Linked DNA regions of Homo sapiens: region 2 is linked to region 1. Evidence: fine-mapped expression QTL. Tissue or cell type: blood mononuclear cells. Region 1 holds a variant in brackets; the other region holds the start of a gene. All regions are shown on one strand. Distances are from middle to middle.

Region 1 (8,099 bases):
TGGGATCTTGCCCCTAGGGTAGCACAGCCTGTCATTGGGAGTTTCCAGACAGAAGTGTTCCCATTCCTTACTCCTAAAGGTGGACTTGAGGAGGGTCTTTGAAAGTCAGCTAGACCAATCTCTAGTTGAACCTCAAGGAGAGTGAGGTACAGAGCAGAGACTGCTGGCTTCCAGGTCTAGCTGGCTCCCACTTGGCCTGGCCAGAGAATTGGTCTGATGGTGCCCACACCTTCACCGGAGGCCCTTTGGTGACCCCATGCATGTTTCCTTTGCAGGACAAGATTAGATGCACCCCGGTTGGAAACAAAGTCCCTGAGCAGCTCCGTGTTACCACCCAGCTATGCTTCAGATCGCCTGTCAGGAAACAACAGGGACCCTGCTCTGAAACCCAAGCGGTCCCACCGCAAGGCAGACCCTGATGCTGCCCACAGGTACTCAGTTTAGGACCCTCAGCAAAGGCTGGCAAAGGCCTGGCTGCAGGGTGAGAAGGGTGGAGAAGCCTGGGGTAGGCTGTTTAGGAGCCTTGGCTTGCTCACCCTTTCAAAACCTTATGTCTGGTTCCTCTGGGTTGGTGGCATTGGTGACATTCCCATCTAACCCTGGCCAACTGCCTGTACACCCAGAGAGAAGGGGTCAGGCAGAGACTGTAACAGATGGCAATATCATGGCTTTCCCATGACTTTCCTTGTTCAGTCTCACCCAGACACCCTTGTGGAATTATACTTAGATGTCAGGAGGGAATCTTGGGACTTGGATAATAGTGAACCAGGGACTTATTTCAAAAAGGATTGGATAAAAGGTATTTGAGGAGATAATTTTTTTTAAAGGAAAAAAAATGTTTTGGCCGGCACAGTGGCTCACGCCTGTAATCCCAGCACTTTGGGAGGCCAAGGCAGGCAGATCACGAGGTCAGGTGATCGAGACCATCCTGGCTAAGACGGTGAAACCCCGTCTCTACTAAAAAATACAAAAAATTAGCCAGGCGTGGTGGCAGGTACCTGTAGTCCCAGCTCCTCGGGAGGCTGAGGCAGGAGAATGGCGTGAACCTGGGAGGCGGAGCTGGCAGTGACCCGAGATGGCACCGCTGCACTCCAGCCTGTGCGACAGAGCAAGAATCCGTCTCAAAAAAAAAAAAAATATTTTTTAAGTGTTGGGGAAGGTTTCCAAGGAGGTAATGTTTAAGTTGATTCCAGAAGGATAAGGAAGACATGGAAGAGCATTCTAGGCAGGAAATACTGTATGAGCTAAACCCTGAGATACAAAAGAGCTTTGTGGTTTCAGGGGGTAATGGGGTTAGTAAGTGGAGAAGGGGGTGTTGGGAGGCCCAAGAGAGAGAAAGTGGGTAGAGCTGGGAAGTAAAGGTAGATGGCAGAACCATGCAGAGTCTTGAGGCTGTGGTAGGGAAGACCTCTGTCCAGCAGCCCTGGCAGTGTCCCAGGGCACCAGACTCCAAGCCAGGCAGACCCCACAGGGTAATTGGGAAATGTCCCAAAGACTGGGATGGTCACTGGCACTTAGTGGGCAAGAACCTCCGATACCAGGGCCTCTGCCAGGACTACCCTTCGTTGAGGACCACTGAGCTGAAGTGACCCATCCCAAGGATGAGACGAGGTACAGCGGTAAAGCCAGGCGCCTCCTGCCAGCCTCTCAGATAACGTCCTACCTCCCTTTCCTTGCAGGCCACGGATCCTGGAGATGGACAAGGAAGAGAACCGGCGCTCGGTGCTGCTGCCCACACACCGGCGGAGGGGTAGCTTCAGCTCTGAGAACTACTGGCGCAAGTCATACGAGTCCTCAGAGGACTGCTCTGAGGCAGCAGGCAGCCCTGCCCGAAAGGTGAAGATGCGGCGGCACTGAGTCTACCCGCCGCCCTCCTGGGAACTCTGGCTCATCCTTACGTAGTTGCCCCTCCTTTTGTTTTGAGGGTTTTGTTTTTGTTCATTGGGGGGTTTTTGTTTTTTGTTTTTTGTTTTTTTTGATTCTATATATTTTTCCTTGGTTTTGTTGCCTGTTAGGGCTGAAGAATAGAATTGGCCAGGACCTAGGTTCTCATATTCTTGGTATTCCTCCTGGATGGAAAGGCTGTTGGCATCAATAGGGGACAGAGGCTGATGCTGGAGTGGCCAGTAGAGGTGGTGGAGCAGAGCAGCCATCTTTTAAGTGGGGCTGTATCAGGCTGGGTTTATTTAAAAGCAACAAAATGTTTTGGTTAAGAAAATTATTTTGCTTTCAGTGTAAATCTTCGCAGTGTTCTAAACAAAGTTCAGTCTTCTGCTCGCCCCTTTCCCTCACTGATGTCTGCACTTGGTTGAGGTCTCCTGGAGCCTCACAGGCTCTGCTGTTCTCCACTTCTCACCTGCCATCCACGCCCTGCAAGCTCATGCAAACACCCTTTCTTCCTCCTGCGGCAGAGTTGTTCAGGTTGCCTGGGCAGGGGCTTAAACAGTGCCAGCCCCTGCCATCCCAAAGCTATTGTTAAGCCCCCCAGGCGTCCTCCACCCACGCCCACTAGCCTGCCATGTCCACAGTTCCTTGGGCTGCTGAGGGGCTAGTGCAGTGGTCCTGACCTCTCTTATCAAGAGCACACTTCTTTGCTGGTTGCTCCTTTTGAGCATATGCGTGTGATTATTTGGAACAGTTAGACTTGCCACGTTGGGTCAGTTTTAGAAATTGTTTCTAGCTAGAGGGACTGGTGTCCTTCCAAGTCTAGCATTTGGGGTATGGAAAATTGTTGTGGTGTGTGGTAGGGTTTTTGTTTTCTTTTTTGAGTTTTTTTTCCCCCTTTAGTCTCCTGGCTTTTTCCTTTCCCTTCCCTTCTCCACTGGCCAGCTTGGGCCTCATCCTCATGTCATCCTTCTAGGAAGGCGCCTGCCCCATCTTGTCTGCCGGCAGCATGCATCCAAGGCCAGAGCTCAGGCCTGCAGACTGGGCTGGTGCCTCCTCCGCTTCAGGGTATGGGAGTTGGTGAAGGGGCTTTCAAAAAATAATAAGGAAAAAAAGGTAAAGTCTTTGGTAGCTTCTATCCACTCAGATCCTGGAAGGCAGCAAGGTTTTGTGGATCTAGATTCATTAGGAATGTCTTCTTGTCAGCCAGGCCAGGACCCGGGCTTGCCAAGAGCAGAGGCCCTCCCAGCAACCAGGATACCACCACTTTGGGGGCTTTGTGTACAGAGGTCCGGGTCTGAGACCTCATAGGCTGCAGAAATCTGGGGCAGCCACCATCAAGAAGCCCCTCTCAGGGGCCAGAACTCCTTTGCCAGCGTGGATTTCTCAAGTCGGGACTGCATAATTAAAGCAGTTGCAGTTTTATTTTTTTTACAGCTTTTTTCCCAAAAATGATTTGTAGTTGTGTGTGCAGCACTTCGCCCTGATATGTGTGCTCTACAATAAAAACCAAATCTAATATATTTTGAAACAGTTGTCTGATGTTGTTGTAAGAGAGGGCTTGCCTTTGGTGCTTCCTTAATCCCTTTACTTTCTTAAACTTGAAACAGGGGTTGGGGAGGCAGAGCTAGCTCATTGGCCGCCAGCGTCCCAGAGGAGTTGGTTGGTCTTGGACACTGGGCCTCCTGTGTGCCTAGCCTTGG[G/A]TTTATGGCTGAAGGTGGACTTGCCCTCACCCCACTGTCCTTTCTCCCACTCCAAGGAGGGTGAACTTCATAAACCACAATGTCCAGGTGCCCAGGGACCACACCTTCTGGAGTTCTGGAAGTCCCTCTTTTAGATATGATCACTGAGAGGCTGGTGCTGGTGAAGGGGGAGATGGCAGGCACAAAAGCAAGGGAGAACCTGGCTTTTGTGGAAAATATGCGAGTGATTTTGCTCATTAAACAAATACTTGGCCAGGCACGGTGGATCACCTGAGCTCAGGAGTTCAAGACCAGCATGGGCAACTTGGCAAAACCCCATCTCTACTAAAAATACAAAAATTTAGCCAGGTGCGTTTAGCTGTGGTCTCAGCTACTAGTGAGACTGAGACAGACAAGAATTGCTTGAGCCTGGGAGGCACAGGTTGCAGTAAGCCGAGATTGTGCCATTGCACTCCAACCTGGGCAACAGAGCAAGACCTTGTCTCAAAAAAACAAAAAAAAAAATTCTTGAGTTCCTATTGTATACCAAGCCACACTGGGACCCCAATAGTGAGCAAAACTCTGGTCCCTCCTTTCAAGATGCTCATGATAGTGTGGAGTGCAGGTACTGGCATGAAGCAGATGTTTTTCAATGGGTAAGGCTGGGGCCCAGAGGGCTTTAGTCCCTCCAGACTTCAGACCTGGCTCCCTATGCCTGGTAAAGGGCTTCTATCTAGAGTCTCTTACTCTGTTCTAGTGCTCAGAGCTAGTCTGCTTGGCCAAATTCTTGCTGTGGAAACTTGGATAAGCTGCTTACCTCCACATTTACCAGAGAAGAGAGACTCCAGAGTGGGGCAAGTAACTGGCCCAGGCTTGGTCTAAAAACTAGTGCGAGGGTCTGAAGAGAGAGGGGCCAGAGTCTCAAGTGTGGTCTGGGGCTAGTTGGGCCTGGAGGGGTAGACACTGGGCTAGGCAGAGTGGACCTTGGATCCCCTGGAGAAGGAAACACCGGATCTGAGAGAAAGTGACTTGCAGAATGTCATCCAGAGTATAAATGGCAGAAGTAAGCATCCCCCACTCCATGCCTGAGCTTCTGACTCTTGGGGCATGGGATAGGGGCTCAGAGAAGGGCTGGGGGAGTGCGAGGAACCGTCTTTGTGGAGGACCCTATTTTCCATTGCCATTAAAAAGTCAGACTTCTGGCCAGGCGCAGTGGCTCATGCCTATAATCCCAGCACTTTGGGAGGCCGAGGTGGGCAGATCACGAGGTCAGGAGTTTGAGACCAGCCTGGCCAACATAGTGGAACCCCGTCTCTACTAAAAATACAAAAAATTAGCTGGGCATGGTGGCGGGCCCCTGTAATCCCAGCTACTTGGGAGGCTGAGGCAGGAGAATCACTTGAAGCCAGGAGGCGAAGGTTGCAGCGAGCCGAGATCGTGCCACTGCACTCCAGCCCAGCGGACAGTGCGAAACTCCATCTCAAAAAAAAAAAAAAAAAAAAAAAACTCCCAGCCTGACCAACATGGTGAAACTCCATCTCTACTGAAAATACAAAAATTAGCTGGGCGTAGTGCTGGGCGCCTGTAATCTCAGCTACTCAGGAGGCTGAGGCAGGAGAATCGCTTGAACCCGGGAGGCGGAGGTTGCGGTGAGCCGAGATCGTGCCACTGGACTCCAGCCTGGGCGACAGCAAGACTCAGTCTCAAAAAAACAAAAAAAAAAAAAAGTCAGACTCAGCCAGGAACAGTGGCTCATACCTGTAGTCCCAGCATTTTGGGAGGCCAAGATGGATGAGCCCAGGAGTTTGAGACCAGCCTGGGCAACACAGCAAAACCCTGTCTCTACAAAAATACAAAAATTAGCCAGGTGTGGTTGTATGCACCTGTAGTCCCAGCTACTTCAGAAGCTGAGGTGGGAGATCACTTGAGCCCAGGAGGTCAAGGCTGTAGTAAGCCGAGATCGCGTCACTGCACTCCAGCCTGGGTGACCCTGTCTCAAAAAAAAAAAAAAAGATTCGGGCCGGGCGTGGTGGCTCATGCCTGTAATCCCAGCACTTTGGGAGGCTGAGGCAGGCGGATCATGAGGTCAGGAGTTCGAGACCAGCCTGGCCAACATGGTGAAACTCTTTCTCTACTAAAAATACAAAAATCAGCTGGGCACGGTGGTGCGTGCCTGTAATCCCAGCTACTCAGGAGGCTGAGACAGGAGAATTGCTTGAACCTGGGAGGCGGAGGTTGCAGTGAGCTGAGATCACGCCACTGCACTCCAACCTGGATGACACAGCGAGACTCTGTCTCAAAAAAAAAAAAAAGGATTCAGCCTCTTCCCAATCCCTGGGTGAAAAAGGCCCTTCACCCTGTAGTATGGAGAGATAGGAGGACTAGAGGAGGGGGCTTTGGCCCTAGCAGTTCCTGCTGTCTCTCTACCTGTACAGTAGCACTCTATCTCTGTAACATAATCCTCTGAGTAGTCCCTAGAACTCTACATCTGATTCTGGATCTGCCTGATCTGATTCTGGATCTGCCTGTTCCCAGCCATCTCCTAGGGCCTCAGGCCAGGTGCTGAGTCCCATCAACCCCTGTCCCTAGCCCAGTCTTCTACACAGTAGATGCTCTAACAGCTGGTGCCATCCCTCACCCCGCTAGGACCCCATCCCATTCCTCCAACCCTTTTGTGTGGAAGGGGAAACTGAGGCCCAGAGAAGTTGACTGGCCAGAGGTCACGTTCACGCATTCAAAAAATAGTGTCTGGCCAGGCGCAGTGGCTCATGCCTGTAATCCCAGCATTTTGGGAGGCCAAGGCAGGTGGATCACTTGAGGTCAGGAGTTTGAGACCAGCCTGGCTAACATAGTGAAACCCCATCTCTACTAAAAATACAAAAATTAGCTGGGCATGGTGGTGCGTACCCATAGTCCCAGATAACTCGGGAGGCTGAGGTGGGAGAATCACTTGAACCCAGGAGGTGGAGGTTGCAGTGAGCTGAGATTGCGCAGTGCTGGAGATACAAGACAGACCTAGTATATGATGTCATATACGCATAAAGTTATAAATTTTACTGATGTGAAGTATAGCATATAAATATTATTTTTGAGATGGAGTCTTGTACTGTTGCCCAGGCTGGAGTGCAGTGAGTGGAGTGATCTCCACTCACTGCAACCTCCGCCTCCCGGGTTCAAGCGATTCTCCTGTCTCAGCCTCCCGAATAGCTGGGATTACAGGCACCTGCCACCATGCCCAGCTAATTTTTTGTATTTTCAGTAGAGATGGGGTTTCACTATGTTGGCCAGGCTAGTCTTGAACTCCTGACCTCATGATCCACCCACCTCGGCCTCCCAAAGTGCTGGGATTACAGGCGTGAGCCACTGTGCCTGGCCAGCATTTAAATTATTAAAACATATATATTCTTATAAATTCCATATAACCAATCTTTTCTCACAGAAATCTATTTTAGTTTTTTTGCTGAATTACTGTATTTGTAGTCTGCTTGTGCTTATAATTCAGCCATGATATGACAAAGGGACTTGCATCATACCTGCTTGTAATAGTTTCCCGTGGCTGCCATAACAAGTCACCACAACCCTGGTGGCTTAAAACGACAAATTTATTTCTCTCAAATTCTGGGAAACTCAACATCACTGGGCTTGCCTGTCTAGTGGAAAACCTGTTCTTTGCCTCTGACAGCTTCTGTTAGCTGTTAACATTCCTTGACTTGGGAACGGGCAGATTCACGTCTCTGCCTCCATGGTCACATGGCCTCCTCCTCTGTGTACCACATCTCCTCTTTTTTTTTTTTTTTTTTTTTTTAAAGACAGAGTCTCACTGTCACCCAGGCTGGAGTGCAATGGCTGGATCACAGCTCACTGCAGCCTTGACCTGCCAGGTTCAAGCAATCTTCCTGCCTTGGCCTCTCAAACTGCTGGGATAACAGGTGTGAGCCACTGTGCCTGGCTTCTGCCTCTCTCCTAATAGGACATTCACGATTGGATTTAGGGCCCCTCTGTCACCCAGGCTGGAGTGCAGTAACATGATCTCGACTCACTGCAGCCTCAAACTCCTGGGCTCAAGTGACCCTCCTGCCTCAGCCTCCCAACCTCAGGTGTGCACACACCACTACACCCTGCTAATTTCTTTAAAAAAATTTTGGGCCAGGCGCGGAGGCTCACACCTGTAATACCAGCACTTTGGGAGGTGGAGGCGGGCAGATCACGAGGTCAGGAGATCAAGACTATCCTGGCTAACATGGTGAAAACCTGTCTCTACTAAAAAATACAAAAAATTAGCCAGGCATGGTGGCGGGTGCCTGTAGTCCCAGCTACTCGGGAGGCTGAGGCAGGAGAATGGCGTGAACCCAGGAGGTGGAACTTGCAGTGAGCTGAGATGCGCCACTGCACTCCAGCCTGGGCGACAGAGCAAGACTCCGTCTCAAAAAAAAAAAAAAAAAAAAAAAATTTGTAGGCCGGGCGTGGTGGCTCACACCTGTAATCCCAGCACTTTGGGAGACCAAGGTGGGTGGATCACCTGAGGTCAGGAGT
Region 2 (8,085 bases), 26 kb before region 1:
GCACAAGAGTCACTTGCACCCAGGAGGCGGGGGTTGCAGTGTGTCGAGATCGCGACACTGTACTCCAGCCTGGGCGACAGAGCGAGACTCGGTCTCAAAAAAAAAAAAAATTTAGAATTTCATCCCAAGAGCCATGAGCAGCCTTCAAAGGTTTTCCAGAGGGGGAAGGGGAGGCACAACCTGCACAGACTGTACTTTGTTAAAGCCATTCTGACCACTGAACGGTGAGTGAATGTAGGAGTTGGGGAGACCAGAGGGGGCTGCTGCAGTGTTAGCTGGAAAACTTGTCATAGATTCTAGTGGTGGTGATGGGTGGGGAGAAGTTGGTAACTGGGGAGAGATTAGAAGGCCCAGCTGGCAGGACTAGGGGGTCAATCAGACCATCCTGGGATGGAGAGGATCAAGAAAGAGCCCCTGATACAAATGCCACAGGGCTGTCCTGCTTTTCACCACTGCCTTGGGTTGGCTTTCCCCAGAAGCAGACCCCAAGGTGAGGAAAGTAAGGAACTCACCAGAAAGAGTGTGGTGTCAATCAAGTTACCACTGTGCAGGGGCCATGCCTGGCAGCAGCTCACTTAACCCCTGGGGTTCTGCCTGCGGCGCTGATGCTCAGTATAGGGACCCCCAAAACAGAGCACAGTGGGCTCCAACATGAGGCAGCCCTGAGGCCTGCCCTCTGCCCCTCATTTCTCATTGTTGTGAGATCATACATGGTGTGTGTGAGGGGGAGGGGGTGTCAGGCTAATTCTTTTGCCCCAAAACCTTTTCCCTAGTCAAGCTGAACTATGAGGCTCAGGAAGGGATGATGTGGCAGAGTGAAAACGAGGGGGCCCTTTTGGCTTTCAGAATACAACTGGGGCCTCCCACACAGACTACAAGCGGCTTCTTGGAAGTAGATCATCCAGGTTGAGCCAAAATGTGAATCACCTCTTCTCTAGGTTGACACAGCCTCTCCCATAACGGACACTGCATTGGAAGCTTCCCTGTGTTCCTCCCTGACTGCTCTTGAGCTAGGACTCTCCCCTCTCGGAGCCCCGGTGAGGGACAGCACAGATTCTGGAACCAGGCAGCCTGGGTTTGAATCATCACTAGGCCACATACTCGCTGTATGGCCTTGGGCAAGTCATTTCACCTCTCTGGGCCTGTTTCCCTATATATACAATGGTAATAATAATAATGCCCTCCTCATTGAATTGTTTGGACGATTAATTGGGCTAGTATATGCACAGGTCCTGGCACATAGTAAAAACTTGATAAGCTTTTTAAAAAAATGTCCATTCCAGGCTGGGCGCAGTGGCTTACGCCTGTAATCCCAGCACTTTGGGAGGCCGAGGCAGGAGGATCTTGTGCCCAGTAGTTCCAAGACCAATTTGACAACATGGTGAAACCCCATCTCTGCTAAAAACAGAAAAATTAGCGGGGTGTGGTGGTACACGCCTCTACATAGTTCCAGCTACTCAGGAGGCTGAGGTGTGGGAGGATGTCTTGAACCCGGGAGGTCGAGATTGCAGTCAGCCAAGATCGTGCCACTGCACTTCAGCCTGGGCAACAGAGACTCTGTCAAAAAAGAACGAGGAGGAGGAGGGGAAGGGGGAGAGAGAGAGGGAGACGGGTGATAAGGAACTGGCATGGGCAACAGCCATGGCAAACAGCCTGGGCAAAGGCCAGGAGGTGAGACACAGTATGTTTGTAGACCTGGCTTACAGGATGAGGACCAGGCTGGGGCTCAGTGTACATGGAAAGAGAGGAGAGGAGGAGCCAAGGCCAGAAGAGTCTTGAAGAAAAGCTTTGAGTGCCAAATAAAGCAGGGGAACTTTATCCTGGGAGACATGGGAGATTTTCCAGCAGATCCCCCCCGACCCCCATTTGTTGGAGCCCTCCAGTGCATCCTGCACGGCTACGCCTTTTTGTTTTGTTTTGCAGCTCTGTCGCCCAGGCCGGAGTGCAGTGGCGCCAGCTCGGCTCTCTGCAGCCTCAATCCCCTGGGCTCAAGGGATCCTCCCACCTCAGCCTCCTGAGTAGCTAGGACCATAGGCGCGCGCCACCACGCCCAGTTCATTTTTAAAAATTTTATTGTAGAGATGGGGTTGCCATGTTGGCCAGGCTGGTCTCAAACTCCTGGGCTCAAGTGATCCGCCCGCCTTGGCCTCGCAAAGTGCTGGGATTACAGGCGTGAGGCCCCGCGCCCGGCAACGCCTTTGCTGACTGCTTCAAAACTTTTTTGAATTGACTGTAGTCATTATCTATAGCTTAGCCTTAGCCTTGCGCCCGTTCGTTTCCTGGAGTTTTCTTCCAGAGTCCCCGTAGGAGGTGCCCCCACGCCCATCTCCAGCACCAAGGAGGCTCGACGCCAACCCCAGCGCGCCCCCACGCTCGCCGTCACCGGGACGTGACTCGTGAAACGTCCGCTCCGGGCGGCGGCGGCAGCGGCGGCAGGCTGGCTTGTACCCCGACAACGCGCGTCTGGCTTCTGCCGGACGTTCCTATCTGGGTTCAGAACTGGGGCCGGGTGCTGCAGGTCCCGCAGTCTGAGAAGTTTTCGCGGGTTTCAGAAGTTTCCTTAGGCGTTCTAAGGGCTTTACTCAGGTGGAGTCTCCATTCAGGCACTTATTTAACCACCCATTTCTCCTTTAGGGGTCCTCGCTGCTCGCCCAGCCGCTAATTAAGTGACGGACACAGTAGCTAAGGAGACTGCCTGATTGACACGCATGATTACCAACCGACTTCCGGAAACTCCAGTCAGGGCCTGCCCGGCGCGTGGCCCACGGCCCAATTAAAGAAGTGGAAGCGCCAAAGGGGGAGGTAACGGAGCGGCCTACGTTGTGGCGGTTCCCTGGTGAATGCGCCCTGGGGTTGAGGCGTCTGCGGGCGTTCGGACGATGCCGTGACGCGGCACGGCGACACTGTTGGCAATATGAGCGCACCCCTGTAGAGGGAGCCCTTCGGTCCTGGAGGCGGCGCGGCGTGAAGACAGGTTGCTATTTGAGAGCGTTCCCTTGAAGCCCCTCAGAGAGTGGGGGAGGGGCGGCGGACGGCAAGCGGTTCCTGTCTGCGCTTGCGCCGGCGCCTCTGCCGACCCGGCCTGCACGCACGCGCATGCCCGTAGCGCGCGGAGCCGCGGTGGCCGGCAGCACTGCGCGTGCGCGGTGAGGAGCCCGCTAAGGAGCGGCGCTGGCGGACGTCGGGCTGGCTGCCCGTGACGTCGTGCGGAGAGCTTTAAAGTGCGGGCCGGGCCGGGCGTCCGAGGGTCTGGTCGGGAGTCGGGCCGCGTCTCCGCAGCAGCCCTCCGCGGCATGAGGCGCTGCCGGCGCCCCTGCCCCGCGGGACGTGGAGAAGGTGGAGGAGGAAGAAGCCCCGTTGTCGCCACCGTTGCATGACCCGCCGCTCCTGAGGCCCTACCCCACGCCCGGACCCTCGACGCCCCCCGCCGGGTCCCCCACTCACGCATGGGGGTTCGGCGCTAAGGACCCCCCTCCCTCCGGGGGCCCCGGGGCGCGTCCCCTTAGAGCCATGCCCGGCTGCCCCGCCCGCCCCGGAGGACCCTAGAGCAGCGTCGTGGGGGCCATGGCGGCCGCCAGCGGCTACACGGACCTGCGTGAGAAGCTCAAGTCCATGACGTCCCGGGACAACTATAAGGCGGGCAGCCGGGAGGCCGCCGCCGCTGCCGCAGCCGCCGTAGCCGCCGCAGCCGCAGCCGCCGCTGCCGCCGAACCTTACCCTGTGTCCGGGGCCAAGCGCAAGTATCAGGAGGACTCGGACCCCGAGCGCAGCGACTATGAGGAGCAGCAGCTGCAGAAGGAGGAGGAGGCGCGCAAGGTGAAGAGCGGCATCCGCCAGATGCGCCTCTTCAGCCAGGACGAGTGCGCCAAGATCGAGGCCCGCATTGACGAGGTGGTGTCCCGCGCTGAGAAGGGCCTGTACAACGAGCACACGGTGGACCGGGCCCCACTGCGCAACAAGTACTTCTTCGGCGAAGGCTACACTTACGGCGCCCAGCTGCAGAAGCGCGGGCCCGGCCAGGAGCGCCTCTACCCGCCGGGCGACGTGGACGAGATCCCCGAGTGGGTGCACCAGCTGGTGATCCAAAAGCTGGTGGAGCACCGCGTCATCCCCGAGGGCTTCGTCAACAGCGCCGTCATCAACGACTACCAGCCCGGCGGCTGCATCGTGTCTCACGTGGACCCCATCCACATCTTCGAGCGCCCCATCGTGTCCGTGTCCTTCTTTAGCGACTCTGCGCTGTGCTTCGGCTGCAAGTTCCAGTTCAAGCCTATTCGGGTGTCGGAACCAGTGCTTTCCCTGCCGGTGCGCAGGGGAAGCGTGACTGTGCTCAGGTAACCCACCCGGGTGGAGGGGGCGGCCCTGCGCCTGCTGCCTTAGCTACCCACCCTGGCCCAGAAAGCAGCAGCCCGTAGGAGTCTGCGTTTTTTACAGTTCTGACCAGTTCTTCTGTTTGTAGATTGTAGGGAGCGAGAGAAGGGTTTTGTGTTTAAGATACCTATAGCAAGAAAATAGGGAACCGATGTGGAAATCCTGTCCCCGAAGGCAGGTTTGACGGGATCACTGACTTGGCTGAGAATTCATCGAAAGCCATCTTTTCAGAAGGCTGTTCCCTTTGATTTTTTTTTTTCCCACCATCCATTTCTTAGCATAAGTCCCTTTGTGATTTTCCGGTTTTCCATTCTGGCCTTCCATTTACAAATCTATGCTTTAAAATTTTTTTTTTTTTTAATTTATCTAAAAGTCTTTCTTGTTCTGCCATTTTTGGATTCCTTAACAGAGAAAGTAGTCACAGGCAAAGGCCCCAGAGATTATTTAATTGAAGCACATTCTCCATTCCCAGGAGGGGGAGTGACTTCCCTGGAGTTGAACAGATTAGTGGTTGGGCCAGGCATACAGAGCAGCACACTCTTAAAATTCTTCCCTCCTGGCTGCAGAAGAGCCCATCAGTTCTTTGTAAGAACGTGTTACTTGTAGTCAGGACTGAATACAACAGAATACAGCTGGTCTCTTGACTGTTTGGCCTTACAGTTGCGTGAGCAGCAGAACTTAGGCTTTTGGCCTATATTCGGTTCCCAGATCCTGCTGAGAATTAGCTCAGTGCCCTGGCCCCCAGAGGAGATTGCCATTGGGAACACCTTTGCTGTTTATGTGAAGTGAAAATTTATTTGGAAGCGGCCTCCTTCCAGTCCTGAAAAAGGTAAACCTAGTAATGTAATTCAGTAATACCCAAAACATCTTAGGTTTAGACCGCAGCTGTTCTCAGAGCAGCTTGGTTGACCACCACCAAATACAAGGTTGAGGACACACTGGGCTTTTGTCGTGAGCAGCCCAGGTTCTGAAGTGAGTCAGTAGGGCCAAAGTCATGAGGAGAAGCAGGGTCCCTGGAGCCTTCTTGATATGAGATTAGGTCATCTGTTTCATTTGAGTCTAACAGCTGAGGCTGCTTCCATGTTGGGGATGGCAGCAGAGCCTTGTAATGTCCAAGACGTCCTGGTGGGAAGGTGGGAAGTCAGTAGTAGCAGAAGCGATACTTTAGCTCTTTAGGCATCTGAAACTTAGAGGACAGCCTAGCTGTCAGATGCCTTCTTATAATGGGCTTCTGAGCTTCTCAGATCTTCATGGCGCTCCTAGATGGATGTCTTGGCAAAATGCTTTAAGATGGGATTTCCAGGACACACCCTCTCCGGGTGCTTGCTGTGTAAGGCAGGTTGGGGTCTGACCCCATTGACGGGTTCTCAGTGCAAAAATTACCTCACACAAGGACCATTTGGTCTCTTAGCGGGATATTAATTTTCTGCGTAGTCATTGGCCCTCAGGGTGGTTGTCAGGAGGTCTAGTAGTGGTCTGGTGCTTAATGAGGGGATCACAAGGCATTTTTTTTTGGTTTTGGGACTACTACTCTCCTTAACACATGCCCACCCTGTATTTTAAGAACAGAAGTTTCGAGTTCTTAGTATGCAGGTCTGTTAGTGATCAGCAACAGGATTGCATCATCAGGAAAATTCTCTTCATCTTTTCCTCAGAATAGTAAAGTCCTAAAGCTTTCCCAGTCCCTGTCAACCCTTTCTGGATTCAGACTTGGCTGTGGTGTTAGTGTGGGAGGCTCAGCCATGTCCTGAAAAGTGCTGCCCCAGGCTTTGAATCCAGCTTTTCTCTCATTTGCTTTGGGATCTTGTAGGCGTTCTCTGAGCTGGCTTTCCCATCTGTAAGTGGGGATGATGCCAACTTCCAAAGCCTATTAGAATTAAATGTGGTGATTTGTTGTCTAAGATAGGGCCTGGCACAGGGTAGGTACTTAAATGGGTGCTTGCTTTCATATACAACCACTCAGTGATCCCCTGCTCTCTCACTGGGGAAGGAACTAGGGATTTGGTGGAGCCTGAAACATGACAGTTTCCCTTCGTGTAGTTCAAGCCCCATGGAGGCCTCAGACAGGAGGATAAGTTATAGCCCAGGAAGGTAACTGCAGAAGCACACTGAAGGGGGACATCTTTTCCACTTTGGAGTGTTGGAAGTTTAGGGGAGGAAATGAACTGGAATGTGAAAAGTGACTAGGAATGAGCCAAGCAGAGAAAGGTGGAGAAATACACAACAGCAGTGTCTTTGGCTGCAGTAGCAGGAGTAGCCATAGGTAAGAGGGGGTGGATGTTGATGGGAGGCAGATGGAGTTCATTAGTAGAGACTGTGGTTGAGGGTGCTCTGGTGAACTCTAGATCAGGGCTTCTCAACAGTGCTATTGTTATTCAGGGCTTGATAATGCTTCATTGTTGAGGCTGTTCGTGCATTGTAGACTGTTCAGCAGCATTCCTGGCTTCTATCTGCTAGGTGCCAATAGTGTTTTTTATGACAACCAGAAAGTGTCCAGACACTGCCAAATGCCGAGGCAGGGGAAGTGCAGAATCCTTAGTTGAGAGTCACTGCTCTAGGGTCTGGACCCTTCCACTAATTAAATCTTCTTGCACCTGCATACTTAGCTTACCTTGGTATGCAGGTGGGTGAACACCTGCCTATTAGTAGTGCCCGTCGTCAAATCCTGCATATAAACTGGTAAGAAGTGGTGCTTTCTCTTTTCCTGGTACAGATCCTAGCCCAGAGGTGATGAGCAGTAAAGCTGCAGATTGGAAGGGAGGGGCTGGTGAAAACAGTGGTGCGGTGCAGATGGGGAGGGATTCTAGTAGTAGGCATCTTAGACTTCAGTTGGTGTTGGTGGCAATGGTATCTGTACCCCTCTAAGACCGCATGGCAAGAATACAATTTTATATTTAATAGTGATCAGCATGGATGTTGGTGCGTCACAAACATTGACTCAGCAGTGTCTAAACCTGGGCATTTAGAACAAGGCCTCACAGAATCTTCTGGAAGTGCTTCAAACTCCTTTCCAAACCTAGTCGTCAGTTGTTTTTTGTAACCTTCCCATGTTAGGCCTGGGTGGATCCCCTCTTAAGGCTGTACTTTAGGGAAATATTTTTTATCTTCATATCACTTTATCTGTCATTCATTCTCCTATTCCCTGTTGGCTGCATGGGGCAGATTAAAACAGACTCTGATTGGACTAATTAGAATAATTACTTCAAGGCTAATTGCTTACTTGCTGCTATCTTTAATCACTGCTACGTGGTCTGTGGTGTGGTGGCCACATGCCCAGAGACCCAGGCCTAGGCCAGCCGTCTGGAAATGACTGTATCACCCAGGCACGGGGCATGCACTGGTGAGCTCAGCCTGTGACTCTTCCAGTTAACGGTTGGTATTGGGTGGAGTGGGCACCCCTGTCAGTTCTGGGATAGTCTGATCTTGTTCAGCTGGTTGAAAGCAAAATTTAGCTTTCTGGCTTAAAATAGTTGGGAAAGTAGGGCAGATAGGTCCTGGGCCACATCTCTTGTGTGGACTCTTCTGATTCCACTGGAGGGGGAGGAACCACAGGATGAAGTCAGGGCTGTGCACCGTCAGGAGGAGCTCTGGGCCAGGGGGGTTGGCTGCCCTTGCTGCTGCCAGAGCCTGACAAGGCAGAGGGCAGTAAAAGAAAGGAAGCTAACAGTGAACCATGGTGTTAATCATGAAGCTCAGAGCAAGCAGAGAATAAAT

Evidence for each region. PIP is the estimated chance that this variant, and not a neighbour inherited with it, causes the effect.
Region 2: it holds the start of ALKBH5, and the variant in region 1 is fine-mapped to the expression of ALKBH5 in blood mononuclear cells (TOPMed, PIP 0.96).

The regions. Positions count from the first base shown.
Region 1 is chr17:18,206,540-18,214,638 of GRCh38, forward strand. It overlaps ALKBH5 (alkB homolog 5, RNA demethylase), which reads left to right. Exons shown (of 4, transcript NM_017758.4): 3 at 276-431; 4 at 1,680-3,415. The coding sequence ends at 1,857. Among named protein-coding and RNA genes, the nearest start is that of LLGL1, 15 kb to the right of the region's middle. The variant G/A (reference allele first, on the strand shown) is at 3,588.
Region 2 is chr17:18,180,680-18,188,764 of GRCh38, forward strand. It overlaps ALKBH5 (alkB homolog 5, RNA demethylase), which reads left to right and starts at 3,149. Exons shown (of 4, transcript NM_017758.4): 1 at 3,149-4,334. The coding sequence starts at 3,565. RefSeq lists silencers at 816-1,110, 3,247-3,546, 3,627-3,716, 3,875-4,026, 5,250-5,299 and enhancers at 2,537-2,736, 2,797-3,036, 3,144-3,981.